Linked DNA regions of Homo sapiens: region 2 is reported to be linked to region 1. The links are microRNA targets in miRTarBase. Many come from high-throughput screens and were not tested one by one. Region 1 holds a microRNA gene; the other region holds the end of a gene's coding sequence.

What was found. The annotated mature microRNA hsa-miR-520h reads ACAAAGUGCUUCCCUUUAGAGU and lies in region 1 at 1,976-1,997, shown strand. An mRNA with a match to its seed (bases 2 to 7 or 8) in the 3' UTR can be bound and repressed. Matches are read on the target gene's strand: a 7mer-m8 pairs with bases 2 to 8, a 7mer-A1 pairs with bases 2 to 7 and ends in A, and an 8mer does both.
Region 2: miRTarBase lists LBR as a target of hsa-miR-520h. Seed matches in the 3' UTR shown: 7mer-m8 at 2,372-2,378.

What each region holds. Positions count from the first base shown.
Region 1 is chr19:53,740,591-53,744,686 of GRCh38, forward strand. MIR520H (microRNA 520h) reads left to right here and starts at 1,922; the gene lies at 1,922-2,009. It overlaps MIR517C (microRNA 517c), which reads left to right and starts at 723; the gene lies at 723-817. It overlaps LOC124904765 (a long non-coding RNA gene), which reads left to right. Exons shown (of 6, transcript XR_007067334.1): 2 at 1,555-1,677.
Region 2 is chr1:225,399,883-225,403,966 of GRCh38, reverse strand. It overlaps LBR (lamin B receptor), which reads left to right. Exons shown (of 14, transcript NM_002296.4): 14 at 504-2,465. The coding sequence ends at 664. Among named protein-coding and RNA genes, the nearest start is that of LBR, 26 kb to the left of the region's middle.

The DNA.
Region 1 (4,096 bases):
TGTATTTGAGATGTACTTGAACAACAAATGATTTGCTGTTTAGGTGTGGGCATCTTTTTTTGTTCCTAATTTTAAGTATAGGACAAGGCTGGGTACCACGGCTCACACCTGTGATTCCATCATTTTGGGAGGCCAAGACAGGAGGATCACCTGAGGTCAGTTGTTTGAGACCAGCCTGGCCAACATGGTGAATCCCCATCTCTACTAAAAATACAAAACTTAGCCCAGTGTGGTGGTGGTACACGCCTGTAATCCCAGCTACTCAGGAGGCTGAGGCAGGAGAATCACAGGAAGCCGGGAAGCTGAGCTCTCAGTGAGCTGAGATCGCACCACTGAACTCCAGCCTAGGCAACAGTGAGACTCAATCTCAAAAAAATAAAAAATAGGCCGGGTGCGGTGGCACACGCTTGTAATCCCAGCACTTTGGGAGGTCGAGACGGGTGGATCACCTCAGGTCAGAGTTCAAGAGCAGCCCCGCCATCAAGACAAAACCTCCTCTCTACTAAAAATGCAAAATATAGCTAGGCGTGGTGGTACACACCTGTAGTCTCAGCTACGTGGGAGGCGGCAGCAGGAGAATCTCTTGAACCCGTGAGAAGGAGATTGCAGTGAGCTAAAATCACACCATTGCACTGCAGCCTGGGCGACTCCATCTCAAAAAATAAATACATAAATAAATAAATACATAAATACATAAAAAATAACCCAGAGTACTGGAGCAAGAAGATCTCAGGCAGTGACCCTCTAGATGGAAGCACTGTCTGTTGTCTAAGAAAAGATCGTGCATCCTTTTAGAGTGTTACTGTTTGAGAAAATCAACGTTGAAGATGCTGCTGATCTTGGTAACACATTTGCAGAGCGTGCTTATCATCAGACGTGCATGATGTTGGGGTTCTGTTTGTTTTGTTTTTTTTTTCCAAGACAGTGTCTCTGTTGCCCAGACTAGAGTGGGTGGCACCTCCAACCGAGATCTCTTGGGCTCAAGTGGTCCTCTTTTTATTTTTTGATTTTTTGAGACCCACTCTGGTTTCACTGGGAGTGCAGTAGCAGAATCTCTGTTGACCGGAAACTCCACCTCTCAGGTTCCAGTGTTTCTACCACCTCAGCCTGCCGAATCATTGGGAATTCAGTTGCCTGCCATCAGGTCTTGCTAATTATTATTGTTTTTTTGTTTTTTTTTTTTGAGGCGGAGTTTCGCTCTTGTTGCCCAGGCTGGAGGGCAATAGCGCGATCTCGGCTCACCGCAACCTCGGCCTCCCGGGTTCAAGTGATTCTCCTGCCTCAGCCTCCCAGATAGCTGGAATTACAGGTGCCTACCACCCCACCCAGCTAATTTTTGTGTTTTCAGTAGAGATGGGGTTTCACCATGTTGGGCAGGCTGGTCTCAAACTCCTGACCTCAGGTGATCCACCAGCCTTGGCCTCCCAAAGTACTGGGATTACAGCTGTGAGCCATCACCCCTAATCTCAAATGGTCCTGTAGAGTCAGCCTAGACTGTGGTCTATCTTGGAGGATGTTTGTGTGTGAGACAATGTATATTCTTCAACATTGTAGATTCCATTTTGGATGCTTCCATCGGGACTGTGTGCCCCTGTCCTGGAACTCAGCTGAACACTTGGCTCAAAATCCATTGCTGTTCTCTGGAAATTCTGCCCTAATCTCTTGGTTAAATATAAGGTATGTGTAGTAGGCTTTGCTTTTTCTCTTTGGGGACAAAACTCAGGAGGGTTGCCCCTTGGTGAACAAGGCTAACCTGCTGAGCCTTTGAAGCAAGGAACTGGAGATGGTCCTTTTAGGGGTTTATGTTCTGGATTCCAGAAAATATGCAAACAGGGCCAATAAATGCATCTTTATTTTGTGTGTATTTTAACCTGGTCAAGGAAAATTCCAACAAGAAACCCAGAGTGCTGGAGCAAGAAGATCCCATGCTGTGACCCTCTAGAGGAAGCACTTTCTGTTTGTTGTCTGAGAAAAAACAAAGTGCTTCCCTTTAGAGTTACTGTTTGGGAAAAGCAGTGTTGAAGTTGATGCTGATGTTGGTAATATATTTGCATGCTTATCATCAGACTTGGATGATGTTGGGGTTCTGGGTTTTTTTTGTTTTCTAAGACAGGGTCTCTGTGGCCCAGGCTGGAGTACAGAGGCACTTCCAACCTAGGTCTCTTGGGCTCAAATGGTCCTTTTTGGGACAGAGTCTTGCTCTGTGACTCAGGCTGGAGTGCAGTGGTGCAATCTCAGCTCACTGCACCCTCCACCTCCTGGGTTCAAGTGATTCTCCTGCCTCAGCTTCCTGGGATTACAGGCACCTGACATCATGCCCAGCTAATATTTGTATTTTTCTTTTTTATTCATTCATTTATTTATTTTTTAGGTGGAGTCTTGCTGTTGCCAAGTCTGGAGGGCCATGGCACGATCCCGGCTGACTCCAACCTCTGTCTCTCAGGTTCAAGCAATTCTCCTGCCTCAGCCTCCTGAGTAGCTGGAATTACAGGCGCTTACCACCACGCCTGACTGCTTTTCGAATGTGTGCGTATGTGTGTGTATGTGTGTTAGAGAGAAAGAGAGAGAGAGAGATGGAGTTTCACTCTTGTTGCCCAGGCTGGAGGGCAATGACATGATCTCGGCCCATACAACCTCAGCCTCCTGGGTTCAAGTGATTCTCCTGCCTCAGCCTCCTGAGTAGCTAGGATTACAGGCATGTGCCACCACACCTGGCTAATTTTGTATTTTTAGTAGATATGGGGCTTCCCCATGTTGGTCAGGCTGGTCTCGAACTCCTGACCTCAAATGATTCACCTGCCTCAGTCTCCCAAAGTGCTGGGATTACAGGTGTGAGCCAACATGCCCGGCCTGAATTTTTTTTTTTTTTTTTTTTTTTTCAAGTAAAGACGGGGTTTCACCATGTTGACCAGGCTGGTCTCAAACCTCTGAACTCACGTGAGCTGCTCGCCTCGGCCTCCCAAAGGCATGAGCCATGGTGCGTGGCCATCAACACCTCTTACTTTATCGAAATTTTTCTGGCACTGGTATAGAACCTCACGTGGGGTCAGGTGGAGTTGAAGGGACCTCAGTGTCCCTGCAGATGGGATGAGCAAGAGCACGGAGGTGGAGTGCATGGGGCTTCAGTGTTTATTGGGGAAATGAAGCTGAAATCTTGGGTGCGTGACCAGGAAATAAATGCATGAGACGGGGGTCTCACTATGCCACCCTGGCTAAAGTGGGCTTAGATCCTCCTGCCTCTGCCCCCCGCAGTCCTTGCTAGATGGGACTACATGTGAATATTAACCCATGCACAGACAAGAAGAATGTAAGAACCATTATTTGGTTCACACCGGGCCCTCAGTTAAACTTGTATTTTAGACAAACAATGTATCTGAGATGTCCTTGAACAACAAATGATTTGCTGTTCAGGTGTGGGCATCTTTGTTTTTTCCCTAATTTTAATGATGGGACTAGTCTGGGTACGGTGGCTCCCGCCTGTAATTCCAGCACTTTGGGAGGCTGAGATAGGAGGATCACCTGAGGTCAGTTGTTTGAGACCAGCCTCGCCAACATGATGAAACCTCGTCTGAACTAAAAATATAGATATTAGCCAGACGGGGTGGTGGTGCACCCCTGCAATCCCAGCTACTCAGGAGGCTGAGGCAGGAGAATCACTTGAAGCCAGGAGGCTGAGCTTTCAGTGAGCTGAGATTGAGCCACTGCACTCCAGCCTGGGCAACAGAGTGAGACTCAGTCTCAAAAAAGTAAAAAATAGGCTGGGTGTGGGCCGGGCGCGGTGGCTCACGCCTGTAATCCCAGCACTTTGGGAGGCCGAGGTGGGTGGATCACAAGGTCAGGAGACTGAGACCATCCTGGCTAACACGGTGAAACCCTGTCTCTAGTAAAAATACAAAAAAAAAAAAAAAATTAGCCAGACGTGATGGTGTGCGCCTGTACTCCTAGCTACTCAGAAGGCTGAGGCAGGAGAATGGCCTGAGCCCGGGAGGCGGAGCTTGCAGTTAGCTGAGATCGCACCACTGCACTCCAGCCTGGGTGACAGAGCAAGACTCCGTCTCAAAAAAAAAAAAAAAAAAAAAAAGGCGGGGTGTGGTAG
Region 2 (4,084 bases), not on the chromosome of region 1:
GGGGTGTCAGGGGGAGCTGGAGGTACTGGTGGAGCCAGGGGAGCTGGGGGAACTGGGGGAGCAGGGGGATCTTGGGAAGCTGGGGGAGCTGGGGGAACTGGGGGAGCAGGGGGATCCAGGGGAGCTGGTGGAGGTGGAGGAGCTGGCCCGTGCCTGCTGCCTGTTTGGTGGCCCAGCCTGTGGTGGAAGACAGCAGTTTTTCTTCTTTGCTGGGGGAAGAAGGGCGAGAAATGAAGAGATGTGTATTAACTATGAGGACAGATGTTTTGATTGTGATGGATTGTTAGAATGGATTCATCAGTCTTTGAGTAGCTTCTAATTTAGATACGACCTTCTGCCACTTTCCAGTGGGATTTTACAGACTTGTTTAATTATTCTCATCATTATTAGAGAAAATGAAGTACCTTGTGGTTCCATTTTTAGAGAATTTGGGGGAAAGCAGGAAAAAATACATTGTAGTGATAATAAAAATATCTAATACTGTGTACTATTATTATCCACAGGTTTTAACCACATTCTGCCTTATTTCTACATAATTTATTTCACCATGTTGCTTGTCCACCGAGAAGCTCGTGACGAGTACCACTGTAAGAAGAAATACGGCGTGGCTTGGGAAAAGTACTGTCAGCGTGTGCCCTACCGTATATTTCCATACATCTACTAATGCTCTTCTGGCTTTTCTACAAAATACTCCTGCAATTCCAGCTGCCATTTGCAAAAACAAGGAAAAAAATCCGAAACTTTCTTTTGTTGCACTGACAGGGTCTGTACTTTTTTTTTTCTTTTTGAGTCAGGACTATGGAGCCGAGTAGTTGATCTTTTAATATAGCCGTGTTTACTTGTATTAACTTACAGTTAACATAGGAAAAATACAAGTAAGGATGTGAGAATTTGCATTTTAATGGGAAATTTTCAACCCTTAATCTGAAAACAGAAGACAGTCTTAATATAAATGTACTGTGAAGAATGCTATTGATGTTTATGGTTTCTGATTACTTTTCAAATTTTGATGTTTTTTTGCCAGTTGGCTTTTCTTAAATGAAAACACTGTTCCATTTAAAGTACATTTATGTTTTATTCAGTAAGAGAATAGAATTTTCATTTGTTTTTCTTTAAATCCTTTACTAATTATATAATTTGAAAGCAAAAAGAAGGGCCTATATTAAATGCTGAAAGTGAAAAGTGATGACATTATTAGCAGACACTGCTTAAAGGAGACCATTTGTAGCAGTTGGCTTAACCTCAACTTCTAAAACTACATTGAAAATGTAAATACATAGCTTAGTTTTTTGTAATATATGGTGACTTCAGATTTTTTTGTACAGTATTTTGAATGTGAGATGATTGTCAGGACTAACTGTCTTTTTAACAAAACATTTTCAGTATTTTAAATAAAATTTTGTAAAGTAATGTGAATTAAAAATTTTGGAACAATTAGAATTCATTCACTATTGTATAGAAGATGCTGTTAAAACATAGGAAGGGTATTTTTCTTGATCCAAAGTTTGTGAATTTGGCTTTGCTACCTCAATTGCAGGTGTTTGTTTGCCTTTATAAACTGTTGCAAATAGAAAAAAAATAGAATAAGTATATATTTTTGGAGTAACATCAATATTTAAACATTTTTACACAGATCGGTGTTTGAAAATTTGCCATTTCAGGCTAATATTTTTATATATTTTTGACTTTTTAAAAGTTCATCAGTGTTTTTGCTACTGTTAAGCTTATGCAGTTTATACTGTATTTTTTATGTATCCTTTATATTTACCAAACCTGACTCCCTGTAAAGGAGTGCTGTCTTAAAAACAACTGAAGGGGTTAAAGTCGTTTCTTTTAGTTTAATAGATGTGCATAAGGTAGCTTTAGCAATTAAATTCTAGTGAAGTTGATATAGTCTCATTTTTAATTGTCCTGTAATGGAACAGTAGCAAATTCACTAAACTTTTGTGTTCAGAGTTAAATTGTTCTCAGTACTTTCAATGTAGGGGAATGTAATAAACATAGTGTGTATGTTTGGGTTTTAATTACACATTTTATATATGAGCCATTTAGATATGCAGTGTTAATTCTATACTGCATTTGAAGTGTATGTAACTTAGCTTATGTTAATGCAGTCATGAAGTTGGTTTGCTCCAGCATCCGGTAGTCTTTAAACATTCTTTTAGTGAAATTGTCATTGTTTTATCAGTGCTAATGTGTGCAAGCAGTTTTTTTATTTTGCTTTTCTCCTGGCATCAGAAAGTGGTGGCGTTTTCTGTACTGGATTGCACCAAGGAAGCTTTTGGGGAGGAAGGAAGGACATTAAATTCTTTCCCTGGTAATGAAAAGAGCCCTTTATCAATACAGTGCTGCAATTTCTGGATATCAGCTACACTTTGTTTTTAAGTTTGTTTTTGACATGTTTATTTGGCAAATTTTATAATGAAGTTTTAAGTTGAAAATAAAATGTAGCAACATTTTGATCACTTTGGAGCCTTTTTTTTTTCCCTTTCTTGCTTGAAACTGAGATTTTTGGGACCAAGACAGGAGCCCTTAGATTCCCACCCCTGCCCAGCCTCCTGTTTTCCTAGGATCATCTGTTTGGGACCCCTGGCCAACTGCTGTTTAAAACTCTCAGAATGTTGGAACTCAAAGGGGTTAGTTGGGAATCCTAACTCCCAGAAAATGGTCATGTGTTTAGTATTTGCTGTTTGAGAAAATACAGAAATGCTAAAACTATTGTAGATCCAGTCATACTTTCAAATGCATTTGTATGAATCACAGAAGCATCTGTGCATTTGAAAGACAGTACGTGTGTGAGAGACACACGAGACACACACATGTACTGTGCCTGCTGACCGTGCTTTAGTGCTTGTTTGGATTTCCAGTTGACTCTAAGCCTGAATTGTGAGATGAGATCAGACAGCTTCACCTCTCAATTCTTCCTGCTGCGACGTTACATTGTGACATTACATTGCAAAATGTGGGTGTGTCAGAATATGCACCAATACCAAGTATACGATTTATATTTTGGTGTTTAGTTTTGCACTGTTTGGAGCAAATGATGAAATATAGGATTTTAACAAAAGATACAAGGTGGAGTGTTTCTAGGTGCAATTTACTTAAATATAGATGGTACAGTTTCCTAGACAATTAAATACATGTTTTGTTCATGGCTGTTAAAAGAGTCTAGTGCTGGGTACAAGTCCCACCTTTTCTACCCCCCTTACTATGGAGAGAGGGGACTGTTGGGATCTTCATTTGTGTACACGTGGGTTATGCTTTCTGCCCATGGACCATTGCCATGATAAAGAGACAGTGAGATGTGGCTTCAAATGCTAGCTGTGCTCCCTCTTAGCAATGTGTGTGTGGGCAATTAATCTCTTTGAGCACTGGTTTCCTCATGTATAAAATCTGGCTGATACGTCCACAGAGTATAGAGGGGCCTGAGGATGATATAGGAATTATTAGTGTTCAACATAGTGCTCAGTTATGTTAGCCATTATTAGTAGAATAACATTCTTCCTATAGGAACATTGAATTTACCAAATTCTCAGGATTTGGCTTTTAGTGGTCAGAGAGGTCTAGTGAAGTCAGAACCATATTGCACTTTTTTTTTTTTTTTTTTTAAAGAGATGGGGTCTTGCTTTGTTGCCCAGGCTGGGGTGCAGTGGCGTGATCATAGCTCAATGCAGCCTCAACCTCCTGGGCTCAAGCCATCCTCCTACCTCAGACTCTGAGTAGCTGGGACTAAAGGTGCCTCATCATGCCTGGCTAATTTTTTAAACAATTTTTTGTAAAGACAGGGTCTCATTATGTTGTCAAGGCTGGTCTTGAATTCCTGGCCTCAAGTGATCCTCTTGCCTTGGCCTCCCCAAGTGCCGGGATTACAGACATGAGCCACTGTACCCAGCCAGACCGCAATTTTTTTTCAAGACAGAGTCTTGCTCTGTCACCTAGGCTAGAGTGCAGTGGCACAGTCTCAGCTGACAGCAACCTCTGCCTCCCAGGCTCAAGTGATTCTCATGCCTCAGCCTCCTGAGCTGGGATTACAGACCTGCGCCACCACGCCCAGCCAATTTGTGTATTTTTAGTAGAGATGGGT